3 linked regions of the Homo sapiens genome follow. The protein of the gene in region 2 interacts with the protein of the main gene of each other region in a pairwise test. Each region holds a gene or a part of one and is shown on either strand. Other genes may lie near its edges.

Evidence for each region.
Region 1: the proteins of MAP7 (region 2) and CLIP4 interact in binary tests that used the Homo sapiens proteins (3 or more experiments, as listed by UniProt).
Region 3: the proteins of MAP7 (region 2) and ZNF114 interact in binary tests that used the Homo sapiens proteins (3 or more experiments, as listed by UniProt).

What each region holds. Positions count from the first base shown.
Region 1 is NC_000002.12:29,110,692-29,118,458, reverse strand, and holds the start of CLIP4 (CAP-Gly domain-containing linker protein 4), read right to left. Parts: upstream 3,045-7,767; 5' UTR 2,794-3,044; intron 304-2,793; exon of another isoform or gene 98-303; intron 1-97.
Region 2 is NC_000006.12:136,365,360-136,372,463, forward strand, and holds part of MAP7 (ensconsin), read right to left. Parts: intron 1,081-7,104; coding exon 968-1,080; intron 660-967; coding exon 376-659; intron 1-375. UniProt on the Homo sapiens protein: Microtubule-stabilizing protein that may play an important role during reorganization of microtubules during polarization and differentiation of epithelial cells. Associates with microtubules in a dynamic manner.
Region 3 is NC_000019.10:48,265,347-48,273,080, reverse strand, and holds the start of ZNF114 (zinc finger protein 114), read right to left. Parts: upstream 3,001-7,734; 5' UTR 2,862-3,000; exon of another isoform or gene 2,848-2,861; intron 2,179-2,847; exon of another isoform or gene 1,966-2,178; intron 1,861-1,965; exon of another isoform or gene 1,837-1,860; 5' UTR 1,632-1,836; intron 1,466-1,631; exon of another isoform or gene 1,355-1,465; 5' UTR 1,253-1,354; exon of another isoform or gene 1,249-1,252; intron 1-1,248. UniProt on the Homo sapiens protein: May be involved in transcriptional regulation.

The sequences.
Region 1 (7,767 bases), on a different chromosome or scaffold from region 2:
AAATTCCCCAAACTCTGATTTCTATAGGAATTTCACCCTACTCATCACTCCAAGTTAGCTGTTAGCAAAAGCATCTTACATAACGTGGCTCAAATACCTTGTGATTTTTTTTCCAAGACTCCTTGGTCCATGCTTTAACACAGAGCAGTAATAAATGGGGATGTCCACTAGCATCTTCAGGCTGGTTCAGGACTGTCTGGACCCCATAAAAGGGCCTTACTGAAGCCAGGAGACTTCAGATTTGAGATATGGTTCAAGAGTGTCCTTGAGTTATTCAACTAATAGGAGACCAAAGCTGTGTCTACATTAGCTGGAATCATGAGGCCCTTTCATTCAATTTCCTGTAATACTTTGTTATGAGTCATCATTCTCCTGAGATTCCAATCTCACCACGTAAGTATTTAAAGCATAACTCCAATGATCCTTTTATTTGCTACCTACATAACATCTGTACAATCTACTAAACAGGTATTTACAGTACTGAACACTTAGTTGGCCTTAGAGAGAATTAAAAATTGAAATACCTGCCCTGAAAAAGCTATTTATGCATTTAACAAATATTTATTCAGTTTTTCTTACTAAGTTCTAAGCTATGCAAAGGTAAAGAAACCAGATCTGTCCTTGCCCTCATATAAATTACAGCCTAGTGTTGATTCCTACCAGAAAGTTGAAAGTAGTAAGTGCTATGACCAAGGACAGCTGAGTCCTATGAAAGCACAGATTCAAGAGGGTCAACGAAGGCTTCCTGGAGACTAATAAGTTAAAGCTGTGGCATCTGACCAGCTAACTACTAGCCACATGTGACTATTTAAATTAATTTAAAAATTGGCCAGGTGCAGTGGCTCATGCCTGTAATCCCAACACTTCGGGAGGCCGAGATGGGCAGATCACTTCAGGTCAGGAGTTCGAGACCACCCTGGCCAATATGGTGAAACCCCACAGCAAAAATTAACAGGGTGTGGTAGCAGGCGCCTGTAATCCCAGCTGCTCGAGAGGCTCAGGCAGAACAATCGCTTGAACCTGGGAGGCAGAGATTGCAGTGAGGAGAGATCAGGCCACTGCACTGCAGCCTGGGTGACAGAGCAGAGCGAGACTCCGTCTCAAAAAAAAAAAACAAAAACAAAAAAAAGAGAGAGAGAAAAGGAAAAGAAAAAAAATATTAAAATTTCAGTGCTTCCACTGCTCTAGCCCCATTCAAGTGGTCAAAAGCTATATGTGGCTAGTGCTACCATATTGGGTAATGCAAAAAGAACATGTTTCTGGTCTCCGAAAGCTCTTCTAAACAGCACTGAAGGAAAACAGTGCAGCTCACTCTCCAGATGAGAAAACAATATACAAATGCCTGAAACAAGACACAAATAAAGGTTAACACACTAAAGCAAGCCTATAGCTCCATAGTTCATTATAAATAATTAACAAGGGAGCAGTAAGCCTAAAAGTAACCAGAGTTTGAGGTTTGAACAGGGAGAAAGAGTGAAGTTGATTTTATATAATCTAAAGATCACTAGTTTCAAACACGTGTCAAAATTGGAGTTGTCATAAGCTATGAGAGACAACATAGGTCACTTTTTTAAAAGCCCTTGCTGGTGGGACTGTATGTGGTAAACACAAAATGTCTGAAATGAATCCTACAAATAGAATACCATGGGCTAAATCTTCTACAAAACAGAAGTAAACACATTCCATGCATGGCTAGACTCAATCTTACAGTCCAGATAGACCGTATCAAATGAAAGCATTTAAAAAATGCATCATATTTACGAAAGCAAAATAAGCTGGAACCAGGATGGTTCTCCAACATAAAAACGCAGACCAACTAGACTCCAGCAGGTTCAAGTCTCTGCTTTCCTCCCCAGTTGCTCAATGCCCCGCACCACGTGATCCTGTGCTGTTTAGACGACTCACTTTAAATTGTGCACAAGATTCACAAACAACAAACGTCAAAGTGAAAGTGAAGTACAATTTAAGTGCTGGCGGATGTTCCTGAGGAAGGTGTTTACTGAAACCTTTCAAAGGCGCCCGTTTTATACGATGATGGTGCTACAATATGAACGCAGTCTAGTATCTCAGAACATACAGCAAGTTATTGTCCCATAGGAACATCATCCTCTGATACGTATCAAAACACTGTCTCAGCACAGAGCTGAAAACCAGAGTCTGGATGACGTGAACAGCCTGACATCTAATTCAAAGCTCTACCATCATAAGCAGTGAATGGGATCCTTAAGGATGCGGGCTCAGCTCCAGCGCTCCTTTCAACTTCCCCTCCCAGGTGCGGATGGTTCAGAATTAAGGGATCTCAGGTAGCCAAGGACTGCAAGGACAGCCATTTGGTTTAGCTTTGAAGACCCACTGGCCAAAGGTTTCTCGACAATTTAATGCGCAAGGGGAGTCAAGTGAGAAATGGGAAGAGGCCGCGTTGGAAAGCCACTGCGCGTGCGGGGACTCTCGGGGCAGCCGCGGCTGGCGGTCGTGGCCCAGAGCCCAGCTCCGCCGCCGGGTCCCGCACACCCCGCGCCCCTCAACCTAAAGTTGGGCCGTCCGTCAGCGGCCGCCACGAGGAGTCCCCATCCCCGCCGGGTGGGCCGCTCCGCCCCGAGAAGGCCTCCCCGCGGCCAGCGACACCGGTGCCCACGGGAGGCGGCCGCGGGGCTTCCACAGCCCCCAGCGCCTCTGCGCGACCCTCCCGGGGCCACTGACCTCCCCGCGGGCCCCCAGGGCCGCCCACCCCGGCCCCAACCCCGCCGCCGGCCAGCCCGCGGCCCGGGGGGGCCCCGCGCGCCCCCGGCCCACCTGCCTCCTCCGGGTCCTCTCGGAGCGGCCGGCTGGGGACGCGGGGGCGCGGAGGAAAGGCCGAGAGGCGCGCTCCCGCCGGCGCTGTCTCCCGTGGCCGCCCACGGAGCCTCCCGCCGCGCCGCTCCACACCTCTCCGGGCCCCTCCCGCTGCCTCCCACGCGGGGTGGGCGCGCGCGCAGTGCAGGCGGCCGGGCGGCGCGCAGGCCTCGGCCACGGCCCCGCGCACGCGCTGGGGACTCGGTGGGGACGGAGGAGGCAGCGCGCGCCTGCGCTGGCTCGCCTGGCTCCCGCGCCCCCGCACTCCCCAGCAGTCAGATGATCGGGCGCACGCGGGGCCGCGACCCCGGCTGACAGCGTCTGCGGGGTGTCGCAGTGTTACCTCCCCCGCCGCGAAGCCAGGCGGCCCCGGCACGCCGTGCGTGCCCACCGCCTTCACAGCCCTCAGCCTCGCGGCCTCACGTCTCTAACCTGCGGCGCCCCCACCAGCTGCTGGGGCCGGGGACCTAGTCTTACCCGTCTTGGGCTCCCCAGAGTCCAGCCGAGCGTGGTCAAGAGTACATCCACCAGTTCCCTGCTGGCAGCGCTTGCTGTAAAAGGCCTAATCCGTGCTACACCCACGTTGAGCAATTAGTTCATATCTCCTGCGGCTTTGCTGCCTCTTCACCCACGTTTTCTCCTGACCCCTTCTCCGTCTCCCAAGGACCAGACAGGGTGAAACTGTGCACCTAAAGTCGTGAACTCTGACAGCCTGACTCTCTGTCATCTGGTAACAAGAAAGCGTTACTGGACACATAGTGAGTCCCCTTAATGAGGAGACCTAGTAAGACCATGACCGAAGTTTGAAACATGGAGACAACAGTGTTACATCTATCAGCTGTCTCTGAGGCCTACAGCGGCTGCTTCATAGAGGCTGTACTTCTGTGTTCAGCGCGCACAGTGCCTGGCAGGAACAGATGTTGAATGAACGTCTGTCAGTGTCTCTGCAAGAGCAGAGGTAAGCGCTCACCGCACCCCGGAGCATCTTTTCCTGTTAGAATCATTGATTTCAGGGACTGGAAAAAGCCCCCTTCCCACTTGCCTGAATCCTCCTTACAGTGTCTTCCCACCAAGCAGTGGTTGAACACCTCCACTAACAAGGAACTCATTACCTTTTAAGGCAGCCATTTAATCTTTGATCAGCCTTTTGGAAATTTTCTACCTTAGGAGCTAAAATCCAGCTCCCTGCATCTCTCCCTCACTGGATTTTGTTTCTGCCCTGGGGACTCTTAAGTCTGACTCCAATTCATCCAAGACACACATTACCTGTCCCTTAGGCTACTCCTGATATGACCTGGTCACAATCCCACTCACCAGCATGTTGAGGGATTCTCTTGGATGCATTCCAGCTTGTCCAGAGCTCTCTTAAATGTGATTATCAGGAATGAGTGGGTGGCCTGCCAAGTGCGGAGAGGAAAGAGACTGCCACCTCTTCTTAGGTCCTATGCTTAACAACATTCACCATATCAAAATAGTTGCTAGGAGCAGTCACATCACATTGTTGAATCGGGTGGAGCACACTTGACTAAAACCCACAATATTTGAATACATGACCATCCCTGACCCTGGTCAGCTGCCAGTTTCTCTGTCTCTGCAGGCTCAGCATCTGCGAGTGCTCTCAGAGATAATGTGACACGGATACTTCCTCCTCCCTCTGAAGAGTCCACCTCCCTTTCCCTGCTTTCATCATACCCTCTTCTTGTCTGACCCACCCATCTCTTTAGCTGGTTAAAAGAAGGAAGGCAATCTGCCCTTGGTTGGCTTCAAGCACCTATAAATGAGGCCAATTGTCATTGAACCACAGAAAGTCATAAAGATCTGTGTGTAACAGAGTAGCTATTGGTGAAGTTTCCAAACGTATACAGTTCACTTTTATTGCTGATTTAAATTATCCATCTGAAATACCACTATTAGTAGGTGACAAGGCATGGCTAGCTCAGTTGTTCTTAGTTATAATAAAGATCTCTGTTAGAACCAGCCAGGCCACTGGCTTTATCTGCTACACCCAAACACTGTATGATACATAGGCAAATTCCCAGGATACCAAGCCACCAGAGTCTCCCACTCACTTAGTTGCCTTTGTTCAAAAATCTGACGTTACTTCTTTATACCATCATCAAGAATGCAAGTGCTCGTTGGAGTCATGCTTCCTAGAATACCTCGTGACATACAAGCTTTAGAACCAGGTATTGCCCAGTTAACCAGAGTGAGACTGGACAATGATATGTGGCCAGAACTTGGAACTTGAACTATTCATTGGGGTGGGAAGGCACATGGGGATGTGGACCAACTGTAGCTGCTGAGATTCAATTCTATCTGGAGACACAAAGTTCCTGAAAAGTATAGCAATAATCCACAGCGTCAGGAGGTGATCAACTTACTGGTCAACATCACAGTGTGGAGAAAGGGCATTACTCACTGACCACTGTAAGGCACTTGACCTATGGAAATCTTGTCTTCACTTTACAAATGAAGAAGCAGACTCTGGGAGGCTGCGTGACTTGCTCCATGTAGCCAGGGGCAGAAATAAGATTCAAACCTAAGTCTGTCTGATCTGAAGGCCTATGTTGATTCACTACTTTGCTAACCTACACAGGCTGTCTTTGGGGGCATTAAAGACCCAGAATGGCTGCATAGAGCAGCATTCAGGAATTCAGACACTCGGCAGCAGGAAGATCTGTCAGCAGCTCTCAGGACCCCGACCATGATAAAAGGGTTAGAGGAAATAGCAAAAGAAGACAAGGTCACTGCTTTTACATGGACTGGATATGGGATGGAATATCATCAGTTTCTAATTTGTGAGTGTATAGGGGGCCTAGGCCCTTAGGACCATGAGAGACACCCAACTGTCAGAATTGGGGCACCAGATTGGAGTTCAACTAGCAGAAGTGCTTAAATGCAAAAGATCAGAGCACTGGGCAGAGCCCCTAATATCTTCCTGTCTGTGATGTTTACAGGTGTGATCATCAGCATAAAAAGCCCAACAGAATCAACAAAGTATTAGAAGTAATGTTAGCTCAGCAAGGTTGCCAAGTACAAGATCAGTTTCTAAAAATCAATAGTTTTGTCTACATCAGCAGTAAGCAACTGGGAAATGTAACAGACAATAAGAAACCATTCACAATAACAATAAAGTTTAACAAACTCTAAAGCATAATATCCAGGAATTAACCCAACAACTTGCAAAAACTTTAAGGAGAAAATTTTAAAACTCTATTTAAGGACATAAAATATTGAATAAGTGGAGAGATACAGCATGGATAGGATGACTTTACATTGTAAAAGTATCCATTTAGTCTCCAAAGTAAATGTTATGGCAACCAAAATTCCAGCAGAAACTAAATTTTTAGGGAACTCAACAAACTTACAAAATATATAAGGAGAAATAAATTTTAAACAGTTAAGTCAATTATAAAAACCAGAGCAGACCTGCCATGCCAGATATTATGTCATTGCCACATAGTAATAAAAATATTATGGTACTGGTATAGGAACACATAGAGCAAATAGGAAACAGAATGAAGAACTCAGGAGCAGACCCACGTATAAATGCTACCTCCATTTACACAAAGGTGGTACCACAGATCAATGAGAAAAATATAAATTATTTAGAAGACGGCATTCGGGAAACTGGCTTTAATTTATCAAGGAAAAATAAAGTTGAGAGCCCCATGTTCTGCCATATACAAAGGTGAACTCCAGATAAATGGCAGACCTACATATGATACAAAAGAAAATGCAGGAGACTATCTCTATAATGTGGGTTAGGAATTTACTTCATAAAACAGGTTTGCAAAAGCACAATCCTTGAAGCAAAAAAAAATTGTATGACTTGACTGCATCACAATTAAGGGTTCTGTTCAGTTAAGAATACCATAGAAAAAATTAACAGATGGCTGACAAATTGGAAGAAAACATGTGCTATGTTCAAAAGCAACTAGGGATTAATATCTGAAATGCATGAGGAACTTTTCACAAATCAAAAGGAAGTCAATATAAAATATTTTAAAGGCCAATATAAAAATGAGAAAAGTATAAGAATAGACAATTCACAGAAGGAAAAGCCAGAATGGCAAGCAAGCATTAAAGAGATGCTCAACCCCACTTGTAATCAGAGTGGGAATATAAAGAGTGTGACCCCATAGCCACCAATATGCTGGTCTATGTTTTAAAACCCGCTCCCCAGGGAAGGAAAAGTCCTAACGTACAGTGTTTGCCAATTTCCATGGTGCAAATACTCTGAGCACTGCCAGTTTCCAGCTACCAGTGTAGCTTGAGGTCACTGAACAAGAAGTTGGGAAGAAATGTGCTTTATCAGCTCTCATGAACTGTTTTCAACACACCACTGCTTCACCCACCAGCATGGCAGAAATCAGAAAGATAATCCCAAATATTGGCAAAGATCTGGGGAAAGATGCACTGCTGATGGAAATTTAAACTGGTAAATATATTCTGCAGATCAACCTGGCAGTGCTTAGTGAAAAAAATTAGCAGTATGCTTTATGACTCAGCAGTCACCCTCCTGGATATGCCTCAGAGAAACCCTTACAGTGGTTCTATAAGCACCTTGTTCATGCAGTTTCCAGGAAGTCAGTTTCTCATTCACTAGGTGACCTTATTCAGTCTATGGCTTTAAATATTGACCAGGCGTGGTGGCTCACACCTGTAATCCCAGCACTTTCAGTGGCCGAGGAAGGATCACTTGAGGCCAGGGGTTCAAGACCAACCTGGCCAACATGGTAAAACCTGGTCTCTGCTAAAAATACAAAAATTAGCCAGGCATGGTGGCGTGCACCTGTGATCTCAGCTTCTTGGGAGGCTGAGGCAGGAGAATTGCTGGAACCTGGGAGGTGGAGGTTGCAGTGAGCTGAGAGCATGCCACTGCACTCCAGCCTAGGGGACAGAGTGAGACTCCATCTCAAATAATAATAATAA
Region 2 (7,104 bases):
TGAACTTCAAGCTCCAGGTGGTTTTACATTTCTAAGTAGCATCTGGTTACCCTGGCAGAGGTGAAAACCAGTGGGTCTTCTGGAAAAAATTCTGACTTCTATCAAGCACACAGGCTACGCCAGGGGTCCTTAAACTCCAGTATGCACAGGAATAGTGTTGCCAGGTAATTTTTTACTTAGCGTTGCTAAGTAAAAAACTATTTTTAAGCAATGCGAAGTTAAAATATTATACTTAAGGAAAGGTATTAAACTTAACCTTAGAGTAAAATTTCCAAGTCTCCAATAAAAGAAGAAAAGGAAAACAAAAAAAGCTTCATCAAAACAGTGCGGGAGAAAAAGAGAGAGCACCCAGACCACAGGTGAGTTTGCTCTTACCAGGGCCAACTTCTGGTTCAGCAGGTGTCCGCTCTTCAACTGTGGCTTCTTCTACCTTCACTAAAGGTGCTCTGCCCTTTAGTGAGGGCTCATTGGCAACTTTCTGAGGTTCCTTCTCAGGATCTTTCTTCTCAGGCTCCACTTTGACTTCCCTCTTGACAGGGCGGATGTTGCCGGGGGATGGGGGCCGGACCTGAGCAGGAGCAGCTTTGACTGAGCCGGGTGGCAAGGAGGATGTCGGTCTGGGTGTGCCAGGCAAATGAGGAAGAGACTTGGACGGAAGCCTGGGCCACAAACAAACAAGGCAGACAAAAGGGGACACATGAGAACAGGCTTGCCAGAACCTAGAACACGACTCGATGGAAGAGAATGCAGATATTTAGCTCCGTGTATTTGTTTTTTATGTGGTAGATACAGAAATAGAGTTGCTTTAGGGAACCATTCCAATTTCTCTTTTTTCTTTCCTTTTGGGAAGAATGCTATTCCCTAAGTCAAAGCCAAACAGCATGAGAAGAACAGTTCACTTTCAGAGGAGAGAGCTACTAATTCTCTAACATGAAACAACCCAGCCAGCCACTTATATTTCACTTACCAAAGTCGGGAGCGAGCTGGTTGTCTTGCTTTGGGATTAGATGGAGATACAGCCCTTCGGGTGCCAGATGTGAGGAAGAGTACATTTTCTCTCTCTCTTTCTTTTTTATAGCTCTAAGTTCAGAGAAACTCAATAGTTAGATTTTTCCACAAGCGAGGCAAACACACTCACAATACTCAACAGTGGAGCTAGAAACCATTGAATGACTTTTAAGAAATTTTCTTAGCTATGTCACATATACCCATTCCATCTCAACAAAAGGCCCTTGTTAGCTTAACACTGAACAGTATAACTGAATTAACACAATGTGACACTAATAAGGTGATTCCGGATGTGTTGGAGTCATATTTGTCAAAAAGCATATGTGTGTACATACTTTTAGAAAGCACCTATACTTTGTGTCTAAAATTAATTACCTGAAGCAAAACGTCCCATTCTGGTTTATCCCCCACAAATGTCAAATGTTACTTTCATTTTTTAAAAAATTTTAATTAAAACACATCTTTTTCTTTTTAATTCTTCAACATTTTCCCCCCAAACACACTATATCTCAGTCTTTAAAAAAATTATATGCCTGCTATATTAGACATAAACTCATTTTTTTCTTTTATATTGATGTTGTATAATGGAATCAAGTCCTTCTTCACCTACTGTCCTCTTGCAGCAATAGATAACTGATACAATAGGTGATTTTGAAGAAAAGTCAGGTTTAAAGTGAGGAATTTCAGCTATTTATTTTTTTGCTCTTCCTTACCAGGAATAAACTGAAATCTGAAGGTGGGCCAAAACATCACCCCTCCCTGATTGCCAACTAGGAATTCAGCTTGAGAGATGACACTTTCCTAAGTCAAAATGGGCAAAGGGAAGCCCAGAGAAGTGTTCCACTACTCTAAAGTCAATGAAGACCAAAACAAACAAACAAAAATTGTACAGAGCAAAACAGACCCATTCCAAGTATCTGAAACCTGACAATGCCCTCAGGTGGGAGGGGCACGTGCTGGAGGCACCTATGTGAACACCTGTCAGGAGGGCAGACTGCAAGCGTACATGGGAAGGGGCAGAGTATTATCTAGCCCCAGGTCACATGAACTAGTACTGTACCTTTTCTTCTCTCCTTTTCTGCCTGGCTCAAGCATCGACTCCTCTTTTCCTTCCTTTCCCTTTTGTTCCCCTCAGTGTCCCTTTTAATTGCTTCCCTCCATTTTCCTTAGCAGCATCCTAGTTGATGGTCTGGGTTATCAGAGGAGCAAAAACATTTAAGTGTCAAATAATGCTCATTGTCTCCCTGGGATTTCTAAACAGAAAAAATGAAGAAAGAGGCAGAGAAGAGCTTCACAAGGTGTGTGCCAGCTCTGCATCATTTCCAGCTGCTCAACCACCATTTCTCCCATTTTAGGTCCCCAAAAGTAGGAGGTGGGGCCTCACAGAGCTGCTGTGGGCTTTGGGTATCAAAAGCTGCAGCCACCATATGGGGCACTCCTGGCTGGTGTACAGGGTGGCATGCCCAGGTCTTTTCCCAGGGGAGACTGGGGTTAAGTACCTCAAGTAGCCCTTCTTTTTTTTTCTTTTTCTCAAAACATTTTGATTTGGCTGAAATCAGATCAATGGGTGATGTAAATGGGAAAAAGACTCAAGAGGGACAATTTTTGATGTGGCGTGGGGGTGGTTGGGGATTATTATTATCTGTGCCTTGATAATACAGGGATCAGGGAATGAACCTATATAAAGGTATATAATCCTAGAATTACAGTACCTTTGAGCCAATTCTTTCTTTTTTAAAAGTTATCTCCTTTAATCACCTAGGGGTAGGTGAGCAGAGGAGGAATGGTTTGGAAAAACACTCGATACTTAACACCCTCCCAACCAGGGAGTTTTTTTTTTTCTTTCTTTTTTAAACCTTTCAGTCCTTTTGTTACTCTTATATCCAACCACCCATTTGGGTACCACACATGTAAAGGCACTCCCAATTCTCATCCTGATCTGAGTTAATAGCCCACCATCTATACAATCATCTTTCCTATTAATAGTTTCCACAATGCTGAGGGGGAACACATACTCAGCAAGTCAATGGTCTGGGCAACATATCAGCAGGAAAAGGACTTTAATTTTATAATTAAGGTAGGTTTAGAATACAGTATAAATATCCTCCAACAGAGACGATTCACTGACAGATACTTTAACGCAGTGCTGTTTAATAGAACTTTCTGATATGATGAAGATGTTCTAAATTTAGCCACTAACCACATTTGCCTATTTGAATTTAAATCTAAATTAATTCAAATTAAGTAAAATAGAAAAGGAAATTTGAAAAACAACTCTATTTCCTATAGCATCCAAAGGAATAAAGTACTTAGGAATGAACTTAACAAAGGAGGCTAAAGATCTGCATACTGAAAACTAGAAGATAGTGCTGAAAGAAATTAAAGGCAACACAAATAAATGGAAGGAAGTCCTGTGTGCAGGGATTAGAAGATTTAATACTGTTAGGATGTCACTACTACCAAAAGGGATCCACAGATTCCATGCATTCCCTATTGAAATCCCAATATAATTTTTTATTTTTGCAGAAATATAAAAATTCAACCCAAAATTCACAGAAAATTTCAAAGGATCCTGAAGAACCAAAATAATCTTGAAAAAGAACAAAGTTGGAATTCTTACATTTCCTGATTTCACAACATATTACAGGTTGAGTATCCCTTATCCAAAATGATTGGGATTACAGTGTGCAGATTTCAGATTCTGGAATACTTGCATTAACACTTACTGCTTTAGCAGCCTTAATCCATATAACTGGAAATGTGAAATGCTCCAATGAGCATCTCCTTTGAGTGTCATGTTGGTATTCAAAAAGTTTCACATTTTGGAGCATTCTGTATTTTTGAATTAGAGATACTCAATTGGTGAAAAGCTACAGTGATCAGTACTGTGTGGTAATGGTATCAAGACAGATATAGATATATGGGGCTGGGCACTACGACTCATGTCTGCAATCCCAGCATTTGGGGAGGCCGAGATGGGTGGATCGCTTGAGGTCAGGAGTTCAAGACCAGCCTGGCCTACATGGCGAAACCCTCTCTCTACTAAAAATACAAAAATTAGATGGGCGTGGTAGCACATGCCTGTATTCCCAGCTACTCAGAAGGCTGGACATGAGAATTGCTTGAGCCTGGGAGGCAGAGGTTGCAGTGAGCTGAGATTGTGCCATTGTACTCCAGCATGGGTGACAGAGTGAGACTGTCTCAAAAAAAAAAAAGATATATAGACCAATGGAATAGAATCCAGAGCCCAGAAACAAACCCTTGTGTATATGGTCAAAAGCTAACACCACTCAATGAAACAAGGACATTCTCTTCAACAAATGATGCAGGGAAAACTGGATATCCAAATGCAAAAGAATGAAGTTGGACTCTTACCTTCTAAAATATACAAAAGTTAACTCAAAATGGATTAAAGACTTAAATGTAAGACTTAACACTATAAAACCTCTAGAAGAAAACATAAGTGAAAAGCTTCATGACACTGTGTTTGGTACTGATTTCTTGGATATAACACTAAAAGCGTAGGCAATAAAGTGTCAATAAATTAACAATAAACAAATGGGACAACATCAAACTTAAACACTTCTATATATCAAAGGAAACAATCAGTAGAGTAAAAAGGCAACCTATGGAATAGAAGAAAGTATCTGTAAGTCATATATTTAATAAGGGGTTACTACTAGAATATATAAATAACTCTACAATTCAACAAAAACAAAATAACCCCATTAAAAAGTGAGCAAAGACTGGAATTGCCATTTTTCTAACGATGACACATGAAAAGCCAACAAGCATATGAAAATATGTTCACCATCACTGATCATTAAAGAAATGCAAACCAAAACTACAAGACATCACCTCACATTCCTTAAGGTGGCTGTTATCAAAAAACAAGATCACGATTGTTGGCGAGAATGTGGAGATACAGAAATCTTTGTGCACTGTTAGTGGGAATGTAAAATGGTACAGCTGCTGTGGAAAATGGCATGGAGGCTCCTCAAAAAATTGAAAATAGGATTACTATATGATCCAGCAATCCCTATATATCAAGTGAAATTGAAAGAACAATCTCTAGAGATATCTATATTCCCATGTTCATAGCAGCGTTATTCACAATAGCCACGAGGTGAAAGCAACCCAAATGTTCACCAACACATGAACTGATAAACAAAATGTGGTATACAAATATAATGGAATATAATTCAGCCCTAAAAAGGAAGGAAATTCTGACATATGCTATAATAAGAATGAACCTTGAGGACATTATGCTAAGTGAAATAAGCCAGGCACAAAAATTCAAACACTGCATGATTTCACTTTTATGTGGTCTATAAAGTAGCTAAATTCATAGGAACAGAAATTAAAACAGTGGCTGCCAGGGCCTGGGGGGAGGGGGAAATGGGGAGTTGTTTAATGGGTATAGAGTTTGAGTTTTGCAGGACTTAAAAAGTTCTGGACATTGGTTGCACTTCAATATGAATATACTTAACACTGCTGAACTTTAGAATGATTAAAATGGTAAATTTTACGTTACATGCTTTTTTTTTTTTTTAACACAACTAAATATTTTTTAAAAACTTAAAATTTAGCTTGTCAGTTTCAGTAGCCACTTTCCAAGTGCTCACTGTGGCCAGTCACTACTGAATTCCACAGTGCAGCTCCAGGGTATAAATGACTCTGAGTCGTTTTCTGTTAGTATTTGCCTAAATACTTGGTTGTAAAGAGGTAAAAAGACAGCTATGTGATTAAATAGAGAAAGAGGAAGGTAATAAAAACAAAACAAAACAAGGCTCTGGATCATGTGATGACAAATCTCTCATTTAACCTGTCAGCCACAGGTGGCCCTCAACCTTCTCTCAAGGAGTGTTAATTTTTGTTTTTACCCAGAACAAGATAGTTTTTCCATGGTAAATGCTCTTTTCCCCTGCCCAGTGAGTACCCAACTTTGGGGCCAACCTGTTCTGTTTAACTACGGCTTTCTGTCTACAGCTAAGGAGGATCTCTGAAACACCAACACTCTAATAAATTAAAACTTTCCAGACATCAAAGATTGTTTCACCTGTGGCTTAGAGGGTTGGAGGCCTGACTCAATCATGAATCAAACACTGATTCCAGAAAGGCCGATGGAGCTTGAAAGAAAAACAGGCTGTAGGCAAAGCCATCAAGCTCTCACAACCCTGAATTATCCTTTAAGCAAAATCCTTTTAAGTGTCCATCAGGTTTATAAATCTGAATTGCTCTGGGAAGTTACGATTTTAAGAAACTGTTTCAGCCTTTCATCAAAAGGGTCATACTGTTATCCTGGAGAGAGGCAATGAGATCTTCTAGTTCACTGGTGAGTCCTTTAAGACTAAAGTACAATGTCTAAAGACCACAGAACAAGGTTTATATCTTTCAACTGACACCAAATAAACACAAGATTTAAAACAAAGAAGAAGATTCCTGGAGACATACAAATTACCTCATTGCATTTATAGCATGGTGAAAATTAACATTACCTCAGCCCGTAATAATAAGTACAAATTATATTTTTCACTTACAAAATCAGAATTTATAGCACAGCCTAACAGCCTTTTACGAATTAGTGATATAGCAAATGACTAATGTTTTCAAAATACTTTTTTGACTAAATTTTAAGATCCCTTGACAGGGCCTTGACAGGGATTAGCCAAGCAGGATAAAAATTCTTTATCTTGCTTTTGAGTGAACCACATTTAGAGTTCAGCCAGCTTCTGGATATGGTTGAAATAAAATGCCAAGGCAGCAGTCCAAGCCCACTTCCCCTTCAAAGGCCATTTGGTTTTCCTACTTTCAAAAATGAAAGTATTCTGGCATTGTACTTATGTGTATGGACGCTCCAGGAGGGTAGGGCGTCCACTCATACATGCTTGAACAAAGAACAGCTTTCATCTTCAAATTCAAATGTTTAGGGAGAGCAAAATCCCCAAGTGAAGAGGAAGTGAGGGGACACTACTGCCCAGCTAGCCAGATTCATGATCAATGGGAAAGATGGGATGGTGGATGTCACGGTCTCCCCCTCTTACGCCCACACCACAGCTCAGGGTCATGTACAGTCTGCACAGGAACAGCACTGGC
Region 3 (7,734 bases), on a different chromosome or scaffold from region 2:
GCTCACGCCTGTAATCCCAGCCCTTTGGGAGGCCGAGGCGGGCAGATCACGAGGTCAGGAGCTCGAGACCATCCTGGCTAACGCGGTGAAACCCCGTCTCTACTAAAAATACAAAAAATTAGCCGGGCGCGGTGGCGGGCGCCTGTAGTCCCAGCTACTTGAGAGGCTGAGGCAGGAGAATGGCGTGAACCCGGGAGGCGGAGCTTGCAGTGAGCAGAGATCGCGCCACAGCGCTCCAGCCTGGGTGACAGAGCGAGACTCCCTCTCAAAAAAAAAAAAAAAAAAAAAGCTCTTTCTCGTAAGAAACCAGTGCATCCTGCACGTCTGGCCCTGCCCAGGACTTTTCAGTTCACCCTCATCACAACAGGCTCCAATCCAATACTTTTTTTTTTTTTTTTTTTTTTTTTGAGAGAGAGTCTTGCTCTGTCGCCCAGGCTAGAGTGCAGTGGCACGATCTCGGCTCACTGCAACCTTCACCTCCCAGGTAGAAGCGATTCTCCTGCCTCAGCCTCCCAAGTAGCTAGGATTACAGGCGCTCGGCTCACTGCAATCTCCACCTCCCAGGTTCAAGCGATTCTCCTGCCTCAGCCTCCCGTGTAGCTAGGATCACAGGCGCCCGCCACCATGCCCGGCTAATTATTATTATTATTATTATTTATTTTTTTTTTTGAGACAGAGTCTCCCTCTGTCGCCCAGGCTGGAGTGCAATGGCTCGATTTCGGCTCACTGCAACCTCCACCTCCCGGGTTCAAGCGATTCTACTGCCTCAGCCTCCTGAGTAGCTGGGATTACAGGCGCATGCCACCACGGCCAGCTAATTTTGGTATTTTTAGTGGAGATGGGGGTTTCACCATGTTGGCCAGGCTGGTCTCGAACTCCTGACCTCAGGTGATCCGCCCACCTCGGCCTTCGAAAATGCTGGGATTACAGGCGTGAGCCACCGCGCCCGGCCAGCTCCAATACTTTCATGGATGCAAAGAACACAACCCCTGCAACCGCTGCATGCGGGCATCTCTGCTGCCCAAGCCCGGGGACAGGCGCTTTCGCAACGCTGCAGCACGGTATGGGGGAAGCGCCCTTCTCCCTGGGCCAAGGTGAAGGGCGCGCTCGGGGTCTGAACACGTGGGTCATTCGTGCCTTCCCCTTTCCTCCCGGAAGGGTAGAGACAATGAGGCTTTTGCAGACAGCAACTCTCAAGTCCCTGGGCCCCGGCCCGGTCCCGCCCTTAGTACGGACACTCAGGCACACTTACTCTTCCACTAGCTCCGGCTTCCAGATGTCTCTGTCGGTGGCGCAGCCCAAAAGCGCGCGCAGCCCAGGAGCGTCTCGGAGCTGCACCAGGATGGGGATCAAACTGTTGAAATAAATCAACCTAACGAGGCCGCCAGGAAGGACCGACTACAGAGATTCGTCCTGCCCAGACATTTTGTACTCGCTTCTTGACCCCTTCCTCAAAATGGACGGTGTAAGGGACCAGGGGGAGGAGAGGGGAGCCGAGCAGGCAGGGGATCCCAGCGCCCGCACTCCTGCCTGCCCACCCCCGTCCCACCCCCCGCCCCCGGGACCCGATCGACCCGACCCCAGAGTCTGACCCCCACGACCAGTAGATTGACATTTCCTGTAGAACTTACTCCCCAGGCACTCCTGATCCAAGCAGGAAACCCCAGCCTTGGGTCCTCGCTGTCGCCTCCGCCCGCGCCACCGTTCCTAGGCTCTCCAGCTGGGAAGCGCGCTCTCTGCGCAGCCAACGCGCCTCCTTGCGGGCTCCGGAGACTCCGGCCGCTTGCTGGCTTCCTGCATTTCCCAAGGAAAGAAGGCTTTTTTTTCCCCTCAGTACTGTAAAAGGGCGGAAACAGACAGGTTGGGGAGTCTCCAGTTTCTCTCTTGTCCCCATTTTTATGTTTTTGCTACCACTCCCCCCCATCCGTTGACTAGCGGCTAAACCGCAAGGCTCCCGTCGCCTACCCTTGAAATGATTTTTTTCTTCCTTCCTTCCTTTCTTTTCTTTCTTTCTTTTTTTTTTTTGAGACGGAGTCTCGCTCTGTCGCCCAGGCTGGAGTGCAGTGGCGCGATCTCGGTTCACTGCAACCTCCGCCTCCCGGGTTCATGCCATTCTCTCGCCTCAGCCTCCGAGTAGCTGGGACTACAGGCGCCCGCCACCACCCTGGCTAAGTTTTTGTATTTTTAGTAAAGACAGGGTTTCAGCGATCTCCTGACCTCGTGATCCGCCCGCCTCGGCCTCCCAAAGTGCTGAGATTACAGGCGTGAGCCACCGCGCCCGGCCCTTCTTTTCTTTTCTTTCTTTCTTTCTTTCTTTCTCTTTTTTCTCTTTTCTTTCTTTCCCTTTTTTCTCTTTCTTTCTTCTCTTTCTTTCTTTTCCTCTCCCTCCCTCCTTCCTTCCTTTTTTCTCTTTCTTTCTTCTTTTTCTTTCTCTCTCTCCCTTCCTCCTTTTCTCCCTCCCTCCCTTCCTCCCTCCCTTCTTTCTTCTCTTTCTTTCTTTCTTCTTTCTTTTTTCTTTCTCTTTCTTCCCTCCCTCCCTTCTTTCCTTTCTCTCTCTCCCTCCCTTTCTCTTTCTTTCTTTCTTTCCTTCCTTCCCCCCTTCCTCTCTCCCTCTCTGCCCCTCCCTCCCTCCCTTCCTTCCTTTTTTATTTTTTTCCTTTTCTTATTCTTTTTTTCTTTTTTTTTTTCTGAGACAAGTTCTTGCTCTGTCCTTCAGGCTGGAGTGCAGTGGCGCAATCTTGGCTCACTGCAGCCTCAAGCGATCCTACCACTTCAGTCTCCCAAGTAGCTGGGACCACAGGCACGTACAAGGCATGCCTGGCTAATTTTAATTTTTTTTTTTTTTAGAGATGAAAACTCACTATGCTGCCCAGACTCGTCTCGAACTCCTGGGTGTCACGCGTGTCCGTATAGAAGACCACCTAAACAGGCTTTGTGTAAGCAACAAAGGCTGTTTATTCACTTGGGTGCAAGTGGGCTGAGTTGGAAAAGAGAGTCAGCGAAGGGAGATAGGAGAGGGGCAGCTTTATAGGGCTGGGGTAGGCAGTGGAAAGTTACAGTTAAAGGTGGTTATTTGTTGTCAGCAGGGGAGGGGCTCACAAGGTGCATTGTGGAGAGATCATGGGACTCATTGTCCAGGAGAAGAATGTCACAGGGTCGACTGATCAGTTGGGGCAGGGCAGGAACAAGTCATAATGGTGGAATGTCATAAGGTGGGTTAATCAGTTAAGGCAGGAACTGGCTGTTTCACTTCTTTTGTGGTTTTTCGGCTGCTCCAGACTTCTTGGCTCCTGCAGGCCATCTGGACGTATATGTGTAGGTCACAGGGGTTACAATGGCTGAGCTTCGGCTCAGAGGCCTGACACTGGGCTTAAAGTGATCCTCTGGCCTTGGGAGGCTGAGGTGGGCAGATCACCTGAGGCGAGGAGTTCAAGGCCAACATGGCGAAACCCTGTCTCTACTAAAAATACAAAAACGAGCTGGGCATGGTGGTGCATACCTGTAATCCCAGCTGCTCGGGAGGCTGAGGCAGGAGAATCGTTTGAACCTGGGAGGAGGAGGTTGCAGTGAGCTGAGATAGCGCCATTGCACTCCAGCCTGGGTGACAGAGCAAGACTCCGTTTCAAAACAAACAAAACAAAACAAAACCCAAAATGACTGCCTAAACCCAGACCTCTAGGACACAGACTCAGTTTCCCACCCTGACTCTGCTTAACTGGGGAGTCGCTTGATCTTCAGGTGCCCCTGATGCAAATCAGCTGAACAAAGCGTTTATCCTCTACTCGAGTTACATCGTTTCTTTTCCTTTGAGGGTCCCCAGCAAACCTTGATGTGCATCTCTTTTTCTTTTGGTTCTTTGGGAGGAAAGATTAAGCCCAGCCCAGCCAGCTCCTGGAGCTCCCCAGGAAGGAAGGGCTGGGAGTCCCTATCTGGTCAATTAAATAATTTATTTATTTATTTATTTTGAGACGGAGTTTCGCTCTTGTTGCCCAGGCTGGAGTGCGATGGCGCAATCTCAGCTCACCACAACCTCTGCCTCCCGGGTTCAAGCAATTCTCCCACCTCAGCCTCCCGAGTAGCTGGGATTACAGGCACACGTCACCATGCCTGGCTAAGTTTTGTGTCTTTAGTAGAGACGGGGTTTCTCCATGTTGGTCAGGCTGGCCTCGAACTCGCAACCTCAGGTGATCCACCTGCCTCGGCCTCCCGAAGTGCTGGGATTACAGGCATGAGCCACTGCACCCCGGCCTAAATAATTTATTTTTTATGGACTGTCTTTCTTCACTCTAGTAATGAAATTCTACCATAAAGCTTAAATTGCCAAATATTGATCATACTTACCCCAGTTACATTTTTTTACGGTGATAAAATATACATCACAAACATTTCCATGTGAACCATTTTTTTTTTTTTTTTTGTGACGGACTCTCCCTCTGTCACCCAGGCTGAGGTGCAGTGGCACGATCTTGGCTCACTGCAAGCTCTGCCTCCCGGGTTCACGCCATTCTCCTGCCTCAGCCTCCTGAGTAGCTGGGACTACAGGCATCTGCCACGCCCAGCTATTTTTTTTGTATTTTTAGTAGAGATGGGGTTTCACCATGTTAGCCAGGATGGTCTCGATCTCCTGACCTCGTGATCCACCCACCTCGGCCTCCCAAAGTGCTGGGATTACAGACATGAGCCACCGTGCCCGGCCTCCATGTGAACCATTTTAAAGTGTACACTTCAGTGGCATTAAGTACAGCCACATCGCTGTGTAACCATCATCACGATTCATCTCCAGAACTTTGTCATCTTTCCCAATTAAAACTCCGTACCCGTTAAATAATCACACCCCATTCCCTTTTTCTCTCAGTCCCTGGTAAGCTCTGTTCTACTTTCTGTGTCCAGGAATTTGACTGTTCTAGGAATCTCCTAGAAGTGGAATCACTCGGCCTTTGCCTTTTTGTGTCTGACGTATTTAATTTTGCACAATGTTTTCCAAGTTCACCTACGGTGAAGCATGTATCAGTATTTCATTCCTTTTAAAGTCTGAAAAGTATTCCACGGTATGTAGTGTTCAAAAGTAAAATGTATGGCTGGGCATGGTGGCTCACACCTGTAATCCCAGCACTTTGGGAAGCTGAGGCGGGCGGATCACCTGCGGTCAGGAGTTCAACACCAGCCTGGCCAACATGGTGAAACCCCGTCTCTACTAAAAATACAAAAATGAGCCAGGCATGGTAGTGCATGCCTGTAGTCCCAGGTACTCGGGAGGCTGAGGCGGGAGAATTGTTTGAACCTGACGGGGAGAGGTTGCAGTGAGCCGAGATCGTGCCACTGCACTCCAGCCTGGGCAACAGAGTGAGACTCTGTCTCAAAAAAAAAAAAAAAAAAAAAAAAGTACAATGTGACATAAGAAAATTTCTGACCTCGGGCTGGGGGCGTTGGCTCACACCTGTAATCTCAGCACTTTGGGAGGCTGAGGTGGGCGGATCACCTGAGGTCAGGAGTTCAAGACCAGCCTGACCAAAATGGAGATACCCCGTCTCTACTAAAAATACAAAATTAGCCGGGCGTGGTGGCGCATGCCTGTAATTCCAGCTACTCGGGAGGCTGAGGCAGGAGAATCGCTTGAACCTGGGAGGCGGAGGTTGCGGTGAGCCGAGTGTGCCATTGCACTCCAGCCTGGGCAACAAGAGCGGAACTCCATAAAAAAAAAAAAGAAAATTTCTGACCTCTTCCCCAAATAAACTACCTGCACGTAAGCCCTCATTTCAGGCTCTCCTTTTTGGAGGCTCCCAAATTATGACCGAAGGAGTCCAAGGACTTGAGAAGAACCCTGTTAAACCTTGGTTCAGGTCTGGGCTCAGGGCACTAAAGGATATTCCTCTTGCGACCTCTAGTGGTTGTAGGTGTCCAATTCCCTTCTATTTTCTCTGGGTCTTCATCTCCAGCAGTGCTTCCCTTCCCTTGTTTTCTCATCCTCTCCCTTCAAAAACCTGCTTCTTGGCCAGGGGCGGTGGCTCACGCCTGTAATCCCAGCACTTTGGGAGCCTGAGGCGGGCGGATCACGAGATCAGGAGTTCGAGACCAGCTTGGCCAACATGGTGAAACCCAGTCTCTACTAAAAATACAAAAATTAGCTGGGTGTGGTGGACGCCTGTAATCCCAGCTACTTGGGAGGCTGAGGCAGGAGAATCGCTGGAAGCCAGGAGGCGGAGGTTGCAGTGAGCCAAGATTGCGCCACTGCACTCCAGCCTGGGTGACAGAGCGAGACTCTGTCTCAAAAAAAAAAAAAAAAAAAAAACCCACAAAAAACCACAAAAAAACCTGCTTCTTTTCTGGTATCCTCAATATCCCGTTTCACCTATGCCTTCACTGCTAGGTGGATCTTTTTAAAGAAAATTGGGAACATTATATTATTTCACCTGTAAAAATATCACTACGATGGCCAGGTACAGTGGTTCATGCTTTGAGAGGCCGAAGTGGGTGGATTGCCTGAGCTCAGGAGTTCGAGACCACCCTGGGCAAAATGGCAAAACCCTGTCTCTAAAAAAAAAAAAAAAAAAATTAGTCAGGCGTGTGGTGCACGTAGTCCCAGCTACTTCAGCTACTTGGGAGGCTGAGGCGGGAGGATCACTTGAGCTCAGGAGGTGGAGGTTGTAGTGAGCTGAGATCTTGCCACTGCACTCCACTCTGGGTGACAGAGTGAGACTCTGTATCAATAAATAAAAAATAAAAAATAAAAATATCACTATGTATGTTTAAAAGATGAAGAGTTAAAAAATGCTTTACTGTCTTACATGAATACTCCCTTACAATGAAAAGTAATCATCATTCAGGACATCATAAAATATCCCGTTAATGTTGTCATTTCCCTGGTTCTTATTTTTACTTTATTGCTTTGCATAGAGATACAAATCATCCACTATAATAGGTTTTTGTGTGTGTGTGTTAATTCTTTGTTAATCTAAGTTGCCACTTATTTAATTCCATCCCCCCATTCAAACATTGCTATTGTTGTAGAAAGTAGGTCATTTTTTCTGTAAAATTTTCTTTGGTTTCAGTTTTGCCAATTAGATCCTTGTGTTGTCATTTAACATGTTTTTCTTTCTTTCTTTCTTTCTTTTTTGAGACGGAGTTTCGCTCCTGTTGCCTAGGTTGGAGTGCAATGGCGTGATCTCGGCAAACTGCAACCTCCGCCTCCTGGGTTCACACCATTCTCCTGCCTCAGCCTCCCGAGTAGCTGGGATTACAGGTGCCCACCACCAGGCCCTGCTAATTTTTTTTGTATTTTCAGTAGAGACGTGGTTTCACCATACTGGCCAGGGTGATCTCGAACTCCTGACCTCAGGTGATCTGCCCGCCTCAGCGTCCCAAAGTGCTGGGATTACCAGCGTGAGCCACTGTGCCCGGCCTTGGTTGCCTGTTTTTATGGTTATTTCTTCATGATATGGTAACCAAGGGGTGGATTATTCATGCCTTCCCTTTTTGGTCCACATAGGGTAACTTCCTGACGTTGCCATGGCATCTGTAAACTGTGATGGAGCTGGTGGGAGTGTAGCAATGAGGACCACCAGAGGTCACTCTCGTCGCCATCCTGGTTTTGGTGGGTTTTGGCCGGCTCCTTTACTGCAACCTGTTTTATCAGCAAGGTCTTTATGACCTGTATCTTGTGCCGACCTCCTATCTCATCCTGTGACTTAGAATGCCTTCATCATTTGGGAATGCAGCCCGGTAGGTCTCAGCCTC